4 linked regions of the Homo sapiens genome follow. The protein of the gene in region 1 purifies or fractionates together with the protein of each later gene. This does not show direct contact. Each region holds a gene or a part of one and is shown in the gene's direction. Other genes may lie near its edges.

Evidence for each region.
Region 2: the proteins of TESMIN (region 1) and TRAPPC6B purify together in Homo sapiens (affinity purification with mass spectrometry; one large-scale study listed by BioGRID and IntAct). This does not show direct contact.
Region 3: the proteins of TESMIN (region 1) and MAPK8IP3 purify together in Homo sapiens (affinity purification with mass spectrometry; one large-scale study listed by BioGRID and IntAct). This does not show direct contact.
Region 4: the proteins of TESMIN (region 1) and KLHL15 purify together in Homo sapiens (affinity purification with mass spectrometry; one large-scale study listed by BioGRID and IntAct). This does not show direct contact.

Annotation. Positions count from the first base shown.
Region 1 is NC_000011.10:68,745,021-68,748,520, reverse strand, and holds part of TESMIN (tesmin), read left to right. Parts: intron 1-1,154; coding exon 1,155-1,313; intron 1,314-3,409; coding exon 3,410-3,500.
Region 2 is NC_000014.9:39,153,334-39,156,833, reverse strand, and holds part of TRAPPC6B (trafficking protein particle complex subunit 6B), read left to right. Parts: intron 1-2,539; coding exon 2,540-2,623; intron 2,624-3,500. UniProt on the Homo sapiens protein: Component of a transport protein particle (TRAPP) complex that may function in specific stages of inter-organelle traffic.
Region 3 is NC_000016.10:1,761,695-1,765,194, forward strand, and holds part of MAPK8IP3 (C-Jun-amino-terminal kinase-interacting protein 3), read left to right. Parts: intron 1-656; coding exon 657-787; intron 788-980; coding exon 981-1,037; intron 1,038-1,141; coding exon 1,142-1,312; intron 1,313-1,962; coding exon 1,963-2,089; intron 2,090-2,420; coding exon 2,421-2,516; intron 2,517-2,606; coding exon 2,607-2,765; intron 2,766-3,318; coding exon 3,319-3,484; intron 3,485-3,500.
Region 4 is NC_000023.11:24,017,187-24,020,686, reverse strand, and holds part of KLHL15 (kelch-like protein 15), read left to right. Parts: intron 1-3,500. UniProt on the Homo sapiens protein: Substrate-specific adapter for CUL3 E3 ubiquitin-protein ligase complex.

The DNA of each region.
Region 1 (3,500 bases):
GGTCTGAGGAAATGATATATTTATTATAGTAGTATTTGTTGATTACAGGGAGATAAGTTAAATCTAAACTGGGATGACGTGCATAGCACATCCCCCAAAGCAGCAAGTAGAAGAAAATTTTATGTGTATTTATATGAAATTTAAAATTTCTAAATAAAGCTACTTAAAATATAGCTAAACTTTATCTCTTTTAAGATTTATACCTAGATGCTAGTCTGCTGTGCTGAGTGATTTGCCCATACATGGGAAATATGATTTGTTTGGGCCTCTGATTTTATTGGGCTGGACAAGCTCCAATTTGAGTCACTATCTGCATTTTGAAAGATACCTGCTCTGTGATTTTTATTTGAGGTCTTCAGTATGTTACCTTAGAGCCACCATCTTTTTGGAAGGGCTCTGTGGCCTGCCTCCTGGCCTTTGGGGAGCCCCACTGTCCTCTGGTCCAGGCAGCTCGGGCAAGTGTAGGTGGAGGAGGAGGGGAGGGGAGGATGCAAAGCGTGGGTTTCCCAGTCCTCCTCACATTCCTACAGATTGTAAAAAGCAGCATCCCAATGTTGAAACAATCCTGATTGTAATTTTTTTTTAACCACGAGGATTCTTACTTTTAAAAATTCTATTGATTTTCAGTATTATCCCTGTATTTCTCCATATCTTTGGTAATTTTGTCATCGGGTTGACAGTTGTTACAGAAGACAGCTTGAACACAAAGCTGGCAGCCACTCCCTACTCTCCACCATTTCATGTTTGTTGTCCTACTATTAAGGCAGGAAAGGGCTACTACCTAATTACAAATCTTCCTATAAACACATCATAAATAATATTAAAACGTTACCAAGGATTTGGGGCTTTTTGAGGAAAAAACAATTGACTAGAACATCTAATTCAAACTACTGAGCATGCTGGAAGAATGTGTGATGGGGCTGGGCTGGAATGCAATGGCACTGTCTCAGCTCACAGCAACCTCCGCCTCCCAGGTTCAAGCAGTTCTCCTGCCTCAACCTCTCCGGTAGCTGGGAGTGTGCCACCATGCCTAGTAGAGACAGGGTTTCACCATAACTTCTACTTATCACTGAGATTTCAATTTTCTAAATTATGCAACTGCAAGAGCCAGTGTCCACCATGTGTTCTCTAAAATAATTATTGCTTTTTTCTAGGTTGAAATCAAGGAAGCAGGTGGTACTACTACAAGTAATAATCCGGAAGAAGCAACTTTGCAGAATCTTCTTGCTCAGGAATCCTGTTGCAAGTTCCCATCGTCCCAGGAACTAGAGGATGCCTCCTGCTGTTCTCTTAAGAAAGATTCCAACCCAATGGTAATTATGCTAAAGAAGATGTGTAGGACTAACATTATACTAAATGCTGGACCCCATCATTACTAAGTCGACTGATCATTTCACTCGTTTTTCATTTCACGTATGTATTGTATCAGGATTTTTGGTTGTCTCATTAGCAAAACAGGGACATGAGCCTTTCACATCTCACCTCTAAGATTCTCATTTCTACTCCATCTTAGCAAATTGAACAAAGATGAGGACATTGCTGTATTCATTAAGGAGAGCAAGCACAAATCACATCAGTTAGTGCAGTGCTGGGGTCAGGGACTGCAGCTGAGCCTCATGGTTTGGCATATTGGTGTGGGGCACGGTCCTGTGGCTTCAGGGCAGAGCCTGCTTCCTTCGTGTCCCAATCTCTCATGATAACAGGTAACGCTTGTATAGGGTACGTAATCAGTCACAGCTGTGGTTTATGTCATATTTTTGCACCTTTATTTAATCCTCCTAACAACTCTGTAGGATAGGCATTCTTTTTATCCCCACTTTATGGGTAAGAAACAGAGATGTTACATCATCTACATTGGTCTTCATAATTAAGTGGTGCATCTGGGACTCCAGATCTCACGTGGCAAGGACTAGGAATGGGGAGAGTGTCGCCCACAGCATTCCCTTAGCAAAGCACCCAGAGTCCAAGAACCGATCATTGCCTTTCCCCCAGCAATTCTTTATTCCTAGAAATGAGGCCCTTGCTGTAAGGCATAGACGTTAACAAGCAAATACTTGAAAATGAGCCTGTCATGAGTTTGGTTTAGCTGTGGTGTACACTAACATTAGCCTCTCCATCGGTGGTTCTATTTGGGGCTGTGGGTTCTGATAGCAGTTTTTCTAGGACCCTAAAAGCAGGTCAGCAGGATGAGAACTCTCCGACTCCCCAAGACTGCAGAGTGATGTTAGCACATTTCCCCAGAGGGCAGAGCCAAGGCTCCCATGTGGATAGGGCCCAGGAGTGTGCAGTAGAGGCAGGTCTGCAGAGTTCACTCTGAGCCTTTCCTGTGTGTGTGTGTGTGTGTGTGTGTAGCTATAACTTTATCCTCCAAATACAAATACAACTCCAATTGAACATGAATGCTGGCCTCTCATCAGATGTCAGGATGATGTGGAATATTGATCCAATGACCATAGTAGGTCCAATGTGTATTACTTTGATAACATTGGTCCTTTATGGTTCTTTGGGTTCTCTTATCTAGATTATAAGCAACTTAAGTGTATAAAGCACAGCTGCTCTGTGTAGTTGTGGTTCTGCCAGCAGAATTGGAAGCTGTGTCCAGGCAGAAGCCACAGCATCTCTCGCCTTTCTATCCCCACATGCCACAGCCTGAAGCAGGGCTGGGCACACAGTTCCCTCAGTGCTTTTGCTTGACTGATGGGATGGACTGGCAGACCCACCCGGCTTGCGACCATTTATTTATGGTCAGTATCCAAGGGGGGTCTGACAGTGCTGCTCAGGCCCAAGCAGATCAGTGTGGCTTCTTAGAACTTTATAGTTCTTGGACTAACCTTTCTAAGCTGTACTTGTAGGAAATAAAATAGATGTGTTTTTAAAACCCCATGTGTTAAATAATGACATGTGTGTGGCAGGAAAGGACAGTTGGAGTAAAATTAGAGAGGATTTTAAGTGCGTGCCCAGGGACTCAGGGACATGCCGCCAGGGCCTCAGTGCCCACTGGGGCTGAATGGGCTGGGGCTTAGCGGAGCAGCACCCTCTTCTGCTCATGTCAATGGTGGAGTGAGGACAGGACAAAGGAAGCTCTGGGGCATGGCTACCTGATCCCCAACTAAATCAGACACCTGTGGAGAAAGCCAGGCACAGGAACTTTTTTCTGTTCACACACTGGACGCATCTCAGGAAACATTTCTGGGTTTTTCTTTTTTTTTTTTTTTTTTTTGCCCTTTGGTGTCTCCAAAGAGCATGTTAGTGTAGAGTAAGAAATCGAAAACAGATCTATAGTTTTCTATCTTCCATTAAAATGTAACTTCTGGATTAAAGCTATTTTCTCAGATTTAAGTTTATTTAGGTTCATTATTACTGGAATTATGTTTCAAAAATGAAACCTGATTGTTCTTTTTCATTTTAGGTGATATGCCAATTGAAAGGGGGCACACAAATGCTATGTATAGACAATTCTAGAACAAGAGAACTAAAAGCACTCCATTTGGTTCCTCAGT
Region 2 (3,500 bases), on another chromosome or scaffold:
CAACCAGGATTCACCACTTTCTTGGCCTCCTGTTTCTTCATGACACCAAGGGCCAGAGCCACCTCCTTCCTCTTGGCCTTTCCTTTTGGCATCTTGGGTGGCAGGAAGAGATTCTTTATAGTCATTTCTAAAGTCTAATTTATAGAGCATTTTACTCTTAAATAACTCCTGGATTATTACTGCTGTCATATTTTCTACTCTTAAAAGATTTTCTTACTACAAAATTAATAGATTACATAGAAAACTATGTATTTATTAAAATTTTAAAAGGGAGACAGAGTCTCGCTTTGTTGCCCAGACTAGTCTTGAGCTCCTGGACTCAAGTAATTCTTTGGCCTCAGCCTCTTGCATAGCTGGGATTATAGGCATGCACCACCACTCCCAGCTTCATTAGATTTTATTTTATGAACTTCAAGGAAATACTTAGAGTAGATTTGGAATTTTGATTAAGTAAAAAATTAAATGTATCTGGTACTCTCAATAGGATAATTCATTTATTTATTTATTTTTAATTAGAGACAGTGTCTCACTATGTTTTCCAGACTGGTCTCAAACTCTTGGGCTCAATGGATCCTCCCGCCTTGGCCTCCCAGAGTTCTGGGATTACAGGTGTGAGCCACTGTGCCTGGCCTGGAATTCATTTTGTACCAACTTTAGCTTGGAATTACTGGAAATGCTAATAGGAAGAAATGACTATGATTTTTTTACTCTCTAGACATGATTTACTAATATATATCAGCTGGCTGGACATGGTGGCTCATGCTTAGAATTGCAGCATTTTGGGAGGCTGAGGCAGAAGGATTGCTTGAGCTCAGGAGTTGGAGACCAGCCTGAGCAACATACTTAGAACCTATTTCTACAAAAAACTTGAAAAAAATTTCACCAGGCATATTGGTATGTGCCTGAGGTTTCAGCTACATGGGAGGAGTTCAAGGATACAGTGAAATACTACACTTTTGCCTGGATAACAGCAAAATTCTGTCTCTTAAAAAAATAAAGCTGGGCGCGGTGGCTCACCCCTGTAATCCCAGCACTTTGGGAGGCCGAGGTGGGCAGATCACCTGAGGTCAGGAGTTCGAGACCAGCCTGGCCAACGTGGTGAAACCCTGTCTCTACTAAAAATACAAAAATTAGCCAGGCATATTGGCGCACGCTTATAGTCCCAGCCACTCAGGAGGCTGAGGAAGGAGAATTGCTTGAACCCGGGAGGCAGAGGTTGCAGTGAGCCTAGATCACACCACTGCACTCCAGCCTGGGCGACAGAGCAAGACTCTGTCTCAAATAAACAAATAAATCCGGGTGCGGTGGCTCACGCCTATAATCCCAGCACTTCAGGAGGCCAAGGCGGGTGGATCACCTGAGGTTGGGAGTTCAAGACCAGCCCTGCCAACATGGAGAAACCCCGTCTCTACTAAAAATACAAAATTAGCTGGGCGTAGTGGCGCATGCCTGTAATCCCAGCTACTTGGGAGGCTGAGGCAGGAGAATCACTTGAACCCAGGAGGCGGAGGTTGTGGTGAGCTGAGATCGAGCCATTGCACTCCAGCCTGGGCAACAAGAGTGAAACTCTGTCTCAAAAAAATAAATAAATAAAAATAAAAATTAGGTCGGGTGTGGTGATCATACATGTAATTTCAGCACTTTGGGAGGCTGAGGCAGGAGGATTACTTGAGCCCTGGAGTTCCAGACCAGCCTAGGCAACATAGGGAGACCCCCTTTCTACAAAAAATTAATAAAACTAGCCGGGTGTGGTGGCATGTGTCTGTGGTCCCAGCTACTCGGAAGGCTGAGGCAAGAGAATTGCTAAACACCCAGGTGTTTGAGGGTGCAGTGAGCTGTGATTGCACCACCACACTCCAGCCTAGACAACAGAGTGAGAGCTCATGTCTAAATAAATAACTATACAAACAAACAGCTTATTTCATGTGGACATGTATTAATGATTCCATCGTACTAGACTATGAGTTTTTAAGGATAGGGACTATGTCTCAGACAGTGTTTTTATCTTCAGTGTATAAAACCGTTCGGTATACATTAGTGTTGTGAAAATACTGAACTCGCAACTCTTCAGCTTGAACATTGCAAAACTCCTTCATTTAAACAAAATTTGACCAGGCTGGGCACGTGGGCTTATGCCTGTAATCCCAGCACTTCGGGAGGTCAAGGTGGGCAGATTGCTTGAGCCCAGGAGTTTGAGACCAGCCTGGGCAACATGGCGAAACCCCATCTGTACAAGAAATATAAAAATTAGCAGGGCATGGTGATGCACGCCTGTAGTCCCAGCTACTTGGGAGCCTGCGGTGGGAGGATTGATTGAGTCTGGGAGTTGGAGGCTGCAGTGAGGCGTAATTGTGCCACTGCATTCTACCCTGGGCGACAGAGGAGACCCCGTCTCAAAGAACAGAAAAAGAAAACTTGGCCAATGGGAAGGAGACTTTTAATAACTTTAAAAAACACTTAAATTGTTTCATAAGAATAAAATAATTTTAAGGACTGCTAGGTACATTGACTTTGGATTTTTTTTCTATTTTTGGAACAGGGCATCTATGTACTTCAGGACAACAAATTTCGCCTGCTTACTCAGATGTCTGCAGGAAAACAGTATTTAGAACATGCATCTAAGGTATTTAATGGAATAGAAGTTGGGGTTTTTGTTAATAGTAGGACTACAGGGAAAAGTACAGTGCTAATCATAACAAACTATTGAATTAAAAATATGTTTTAAGGTGTTCTTTTTTGTTTAAAGAGTTTTCTATGAAATGAGAGACATGTTACAATAACACTAAACTGTAGCTAAATAGTCATAGAGTGACCAATTAAAGAAACACTGGCCGGGCGCTATGGCTCACGCCTGTAATCCCAGCACTTTGGGAGGCCAAGGCAGGTGGATTACCTGAGGTCAAGAGTTCAAGACCAGCTTGGCCAGCATGGGGAAACCCTTTCTCTACTAAAAATATGAAAAATAGCTGGACGTTCTGGCGAGCGCCTGCAATCCCAGCTATTCGGGAGGCTGAGGCAGGAGAATCACTTGAACCCGGGAGGCAGAAGTTGCAGTGAGCTGAGATCGTGCTATCATTGCACTCCAGCCTGGGGTATAAGAGCAAAACTCCATCTCAAAAAAAAAAAAAAAGAAAAAAAAGAAACACTATAACTAAATGACAGTGAAATGTAGATGTATGGTAGATCACTTTTTTTTTTTTTTTAAGACAAGGTCTTGCTCTGTCATCTAGGCTGGAGTGTAGTGGTACAATCATGGCCTATCTTGACCTTGACCCCCCCGGGCTCAAGTGATCCTCCCACTTCAGTCACCCAAGGAGGTAGGACTGCAGGTGTGGGCCACCATGCCTGGCTAATTTTTAAAAAAATTTTTTAGAGATGGGATCCCACGATGTTGCCCAGGCTCGTCTTGAACTCCTGGGCTCAAGTGATCACCTCACCTCGGCCTCCCAGTGTGTTGGGATTACAGGTGTGAGCCACTGCATCCGGCCTGATTGCCTATT
Region 3 (3,500 bases), on another chromosome or scaffold:
TTCACCATTCCCAGGCGGGGCGGCCACTGTTCCCACACATTCACACGCCGGGTGACCACTGTTCATACGCATTCACACGTGGGGCAGCCATCATTCCCACACATTCACACGCTGGGCGGCCACCATTCACCATTCACCATTCACACACAGTATATCCTACTATTCACACTCGGGGCATGGGGATGCGGGGTGCCTCCCGGGGACTCACCGGCGCTTCTGTCTCTGTACAGAATCAGTATATCCCACAATTCACATGCAGGGCTGGGGTGGGCACGGGCAGGGGGCCCAGGCGGGCTCCTGGGGACTCGCCGGCTGTTCTGGGCTGACAGCTCTCCCACCCCTCCTGGGTGACACCTGACCCCAGCGGCATCATCTGCCACCCCACTCCTGAGACCACATGGAGTCAGAATCAGGCCCTTGGGCAGGACCACAGCCCTGGCAGGATGCCGGGTCCCCTGTCAGCACCCAAGTCCTGGTGCATGCCTTTTGTATGGTTCCCCTCCCCGCTTGCCGACACCCCTCCACACCGCTTCTTGCCTGAGGATCTGAAGGAAATTGGCACTGAGATCCACCTATACGTGTAGGCACCCCAGGAGGAAGCAGGTGTCACCCGGCCTCCGAGGGCTGGCTGAGCCTCTGTGCCCCTCCCTCCGCAGGACAAAATCCCCATGGCCCAGCGCCGCCGCTTCACGCGGGTGGAGATGGCCCGTGTGCTCATGGAGCGGAACCAGTACAAGGAGCGGCTGATGGAGCTGCAGGAGGCTGTGCGGTGGACTGAGATGATCAGGTGGGAGTTGCGGCCACCCCAGGAGGGGCTGCGGGATCATCCCTGACGGCAGGACTGCGGCTCCCTCCTCTGCACCTCCCTGTCTTCTGGGGGGACTGAAGTGCGCTGGGTGCTTCCTGGCGGGAGCCAGAGAGTCGCAGGTAAGGGAGGCGTGAGGGCACTAGCAGGTTGCTCCCTGTGCCCTCCCCTGCAGAGCGTCCCGAGAGCACCCATCCGTCCAGGAGAAGAAGAAGTCGACCATCTGGCAGTTGTAAGCTGGGGGCCCCTGGGGGATGTGGGCAGCAGCTGCAGGGGAAGGGGCAGGGAGGTTCCCTGGTCCTCTGCCCACCCCTCACCTCCCTGTGCCTCTGGCAGCTTCAGCCGCCTCTTCAGCTCTTCCTCCAGCCCCCCTCCGGCCAAGCGCCCCTATCCCTCGGTGAACATCCACTACAAGTCACCCACCACTGCCGGCTTCAGCCAGCGCCGCAACCATGCCATGTGCCCGATCTCGGCAGGCAGCCGGCCCCTGGAATTCTTCCCTGACGAGTGAGTGTCCCGCAGCCCCCACTTGTGGCCTGCAATGGGGTTGGGGAGGCCCTGTCCTGAGGCTCCTCCCCTCCAGGCCCTGAAGCGGGACTTTGAGGGCAGCCTCCACCTTGCTGGCCACATGCCAGGGGCCGTGACCTCTCCCTGCACACTGCCTGCCCCTCCCTGCAGCGGGGAGCTGGGCTGCTTTGGCTCCACGGTATTTGGTTCAGGATGTCCCTTGGCAGAGGCTGTGCCCACCAACAGTCAGGGGGCTGTGCTGGGCTCCACGGTGGCCTCTGCAGCAAGGAGCCGTTTCAGGCGTCTGTCCAGCAGGGAGTCGCTGGTCATGCCTGTGCCCCGGCGGCACTCCAGGTCCCGGTCTGTGGAACCCTCAGTGACTGTGGCAGCAGAGCAGCCTCTGGGTCGAGCAGGGGCCAGCTGTGGCCTCCAAGCCCAGGGGCATAGCCGGTGCCAGGAAAGCCACCCTTCCCAGCTGGGCACCCAGTGCCGGGAAAGCCACCCTTCCCAGCTGGGCACCCGGTGGCCGGGAAAAGGCGAGGATGGGCCCAGGCGGGCCTCCCTGCCGTGACCTCCCCCAGGACAAGCCTGGGGCACTGTGGGGGCCGCTCACCCTGGACAGAGACATCACCCATCATTCTTCCACTCAGCGACTGCACGTCCTCCGCCCGTCGAGAGCAGAAGCGCGAGCAGTACCGCCAGGTGCGTGAGCACGTGCGTAACGACGACGGCCGTCTGCAGGCCTGCGGCTGGAGCCTGCCCGCCAAGTACAAGCAGGTGCGGGCGGGCGCTGCGGGGACCGGGCGGGGCCCCGCAGAGGCGGGGCGGGGGTAAGGGGCGGGGCGCTGTGGGGCGGGGAGAGGGCGGGGCAGTGCTAGGGGGTGGGAGAGGACGGCGGGTGGGGCGGGGCCTGGCAGGTTCCTAGTGAGCCTCCTGGGCAGGGGTCTGGAGGGTCGGAGAAGGAGCCCCGCGGCTCCCACGCCCCCACCTGCCTCCAGTCTTGAAGTGGCTGTGCCGCCAGAAGCTGGCAGCCCTACCTGTCTCAGATTTCTGGAGGGATGGGTAGGAGCCAGGGTTCGTGCCCACGGCGCCTCCCTGCTCCCTGCAGCTGAGTCCCAACGGGGGCCAGGAGGACACGCGGATGAAGAACGTGCCGGTGCCGGTGTACTGCCGCCCTCTGGTGGAGAAGGACCCCACCATGAAGGTGAGCCCGCGAGGACCCCGCTCAGGCTGGCTGGGCGAGCGGGAGGCTGGGGAGTGCCGGTGACACCCGACCTCGGCCCTGCCCTTGCAGCTGTGGTGTGCCGCGGGCGTCAACCTGAGCGGGTGGAGGCCCAATGAGGACGACGCTGGGAATGGAGTCAAGCCAGCGCCAGGCCGCGATCCCCTGACCTGCGACCGCGAAGGAGACGGCGAGCCCAAGAGCGCCCACACGTCTCCCGAGAAGAAGAAGGTGAGCATGGCCGAGGCCACCGGGCACCCTCCCTGGCTTAGTCTCAGGACAGCTCAGCTGCAGAGCATGCTGGGAGTGAGACACAGGACAGCTGGGGACAGCACCCGGAAGCAGGGCAGCGCAGGGGCTCCTAGACTGCGGGAAGCAGTGTCTTCCCTCACCAGGACTGAGCCGCCTTCTGGGTTTTCAGTTTTCACCCCCCAGGTGGCCTGGAGTGGGCCTGCACTGGGCTGCAGGGGTCAGGCAGGCAGCAGGCACAGAGGAGCCCAGGAGCGGCAGAGCTTGCCTCCCAGTGGTGGGAGGCTTAGTTTTATGCCCAGCTTGGGCCTCTTGGAGCTCAGGGGCCTCTTCTGTGGAGGCGAAACCGTGTCTGTGAGTGCTTTAGAGTGCAGTCCTGAGTCCGCATTGTTCTGGTCCTGGGGGAGGACAGCCATGTCCCCTCAAGCTGTAGTCAAGGCTGGATCCTGACAGATTCTGGGAGCCCCATGGCCCTGTGCTGCCACCGGGTAGCCTCAAGCTCGGGCTCTGACCTTGATCCCGTGCCCTGAAACAGGCCAAGGAGCTCCCTGAAATGGACGCCACCTCCAGCCGGGTGTGGATCCTGACCAGCACCCTGACCACCAGCAAGGTGGTGATCATCGACGCCAACCAGCCGGGCACGGTGGTGGACCAGTTCACCGTCTGCAACGCGCACGTGCTGTGCATCTCCAGCATCCCCGGTGAGCAGCTGGAGTG
Region 4 (3,500 bases), on another chromosome or scaffold:
ACTACTTCTAGTCATAGTGTGGAATAAGCAGAGAAGCATTAAATTAAAGTCTTCTGATGAAAAATAGCATTCAAGCAGGGTTTTTTTTTTCTTATAAGGCTTCTTGTATTATAGGATGACGAAATGCTAAACATACCTGAAAAGTGAAGTAATTTGGTGCCAGTCTGGAGGCTGGAGGACCCAGGGCCCTCCTAATAGCTTAGTTAAATGGTCATTTGCAATTTGGTCCTGAGTTATAAAAATATTTTGATGACAAGAAAGAATTTCCAGTATTAAACAAATTAAAGTTAACTTACACAACGTCTCCTCCCATATTAAAGTGAGTTTTCAATTTGAGTAGTGTATTGAGAGTAAAGTGACCGCTAATAGAGCTTAAAAGTCTGTCTTTAAATTTGTCTTTTCTTTTATATTGGTATGTTGAGAAGTTGGCTGCTTTGAGATTGTCAAATTTACATTTTTTTACTTTATGGGTTACAGAAGTGAGAAATGTTATGACTCAGAAATTAATTCTGTTTTTATCCGTAGTAAGCCTTTGCATTCTCTTTTCGATATGCAACTGTGGCATTTTCTGCATAGGCATCAATTTTGGTAGGAGAACAGTTTGGGGATGAAGATAGTATGAAATCATTTAAATTTTTCATTGAGGGTAAGTATATTATATCAACCTCTGAGAATCTAGCTTTTGCATTGAATACCTTAAGCTTTTGTATGAATTTTCAAGCAGCTGTGGAAGGAATGTGAAAGCAATAAATTATTGCTTATGGCACAAACATAGAGGTTAATTTTGAAATGTCTTTTAATTGCCTATAATTTTGCCTTCACATCAGAATGGCAGCCTTATAACTGAAAAGGAAGCATTTAATTTCTTTGCCTTTAATTTCCTGTCCAGTTTTACCCCCACCAAACTTCTTTTTTTACTGGTCACTAGAGAGTTTGAAGTGTTCAAAAATTCTGTGATATAAATAGCAGTAATAGTCTTCCAGGGCAGAGGTAGGAAGAGGTTGAGGTTTGTGCGTGCACGTGTGTGTGTGTGTGTGTGTGTTGTCACTTATCTCTTACACTTTCAGTTGTTCTCAAGCCTGTGGTCTCAGGACTTCTTTGTACTTATTTGTACTCTTAAAAATTAGTGGGGGCCGGGCTTGGTGGCTCACACCTGTAATCCCAGCACTTTGAGAGGCCGAGGCGGGTGGATCGCTTGAGGCCAGGAGTTCGAGACCAGCCTGGGCAACATGGTGAAACTCCGTCTCTACTAAAAATAAAAAAATGAGCTGGGCGTGGTGGTGGGCTCCTGTAATCCCAGCTACTCAGGAGGCTGAGGCAGGAGAATCGCTTGAACCCCGGAGCAGAGGTTGCAGAGATCATGCCACTGTACTCCAGCCTGGGTGCAGAGTGAGACTGTCTCAAAAAATAAATAAACAAATAAAAATTAATTCTATTACATGGTAACCTAAATAACATTTTTTTATGAAAAATAACTTTTCTAAAACAGTTAAGAACTTGGTGAAAAGAGTGGCATTGTTTTAAATTTTTGCATATCTCTTTAATATCTGGCTTAATAAAAGCCAATGGGCTTCTCATCAGCTTCTGCATTCAGTCTGTTGCAATATCACATACCATGTGTAAACCTCTAGAAAACAGAATGAAAGTGAAAAAGACAAATAACTATTCTTTATTTATGTATTTATTTTGAGAAGGAGTCTTGCTCTGTCGCCCTGGCTGGAGGTGGCGCAATCTTGGCTCACTGCAACCTCTGCCTCCTGGGTTCAAGCAATTCTCGTGCCTCACCCTCCTGAGTAGCTGGAATCAGACGCACATGCCATCACCCCTGGCTAAGTTTTGTATTTTTTAGTAGAGATAGGGTTTCACCATATTGACCAGGCTGGTTTTGAACTCCTGAGCTCAAGTGATCAGCCCACCTCTACCTCCCAAGGTGCTAGGATCACGGATGTGAGCCACTGTGCCCGGCTGACCAATAACTTTAAAAAAATTATTTGGATAATAATTTTGACATTGGGAAGCCCCTTTAGTGGGGACTGGGATCTTTTAGGACAACTGGATTCACTTGTCCCCAGATCATGCTTTGAGAATCCCTATACTAATCATTCTTAGGCACAAAAATGTGAGGCTTTCTTTTATTTAGTCAGTACCAAGTTTATGAAACAAGACACGTTCTTCAGTATTTCTTTCCTGGTAGTATAAGTATGCCTTGTCATTTGGTCTAATTGGTTTCCCTCTTGAAAAAAAAAAAACCTACTATTTGAAATTCTGAAGGCCATGTATAAAGTGTTGATAAACCTATATATGAAAAGTAAGGATACAGAATTTTTGTACATTGAACATTTTGTCAGTAAATGTTTTTCCTCAAAGCCTCTTAAATTTTTCCTCCAGCACTCATTTAAAGAGTTCTTATTTAAGGTTTTTGTGTTTTACAATGATTCGTTTTTTTCTTTTGGGAGAGTGGGGCTACGCACTTCTTGTTGAGCACGCTACTGCTGCCGCGGCTGTCTCTGCCATTGCAAAGTAGTTCTTATAATAGTTTTCTTCCTTAAATTGATATAATTCTGTACTTAGATTTCTTTTTAGAGACAGGGCCTTGTTCTGTTGCCCAGACTGGAATGCAGTGGCTTCATCGTGGTTCACTGCAGCCTCGACATCCTCACCGCAAGCGATTTTCCTGCCTCAGCCTCCCAAGTAGCTGGGGCCACAGGAGCACGCCACCAAGCTCTGCTATTTAAAAAAATTTTTTTGTAGGGAAGAGGTCTGGCCACATTGCCCAGGCTGGTCTTGAACTGGATCAAGTGATCCTCGTGCCTTGCCTCCCAAAATGTTGGGATTACAGGCATGAGGCCGCTGTAACCAGTTAAAGAATTATGTACACAATTTTTTTTTTTTTTTTTTTTTTTTTTTGGGACATGGTCTCACTCTGTTGCCCAGGCTGAAGTTCAGTGGTGGATTATAGCTCATTGCAGCCTCGGCCTCCCGGGCTCAGTTTATCCTCTGACCTCAGCCTCCTGAGTAGCTGGGACTACAGTCACACACCACCACGTCTGACTAATTTTTATGTTTTTAGTAGAGATGGGGTTTTGCCACGTTGCCCATGCTGGCCTCGAACTCCCGAGCTCAAGCGATATGCCCATCTCGGCCTCCCAAAGTGGTGGGATTATAGACGTGAGCCACTGCGCCTGACTCTGATCTGTTATAAATCTGCATTATGATAAACCCTAGGGAGGCATGGGGTTGGTAGAGAGGGGAGACTGAGGGTTCTCACTTAGGTTAATTCATTTATTCACCACCCTAACTTGATAATAAGATGATGATGATTATTAGTAATGTATGGATGGAAACCAAGATAGGAAGTTAACAAAATTTCTGTAGGTCACACAGTAAGCACTCTGATTTCAGAGGTTTTGCTCTTTCCGACCACACTATTTTGTATTTTTTGCAAATAGAATCTAATTTTTTTTTTTTTTTTTTTGAGACAGGCTCTTAGTTTGTTGCCC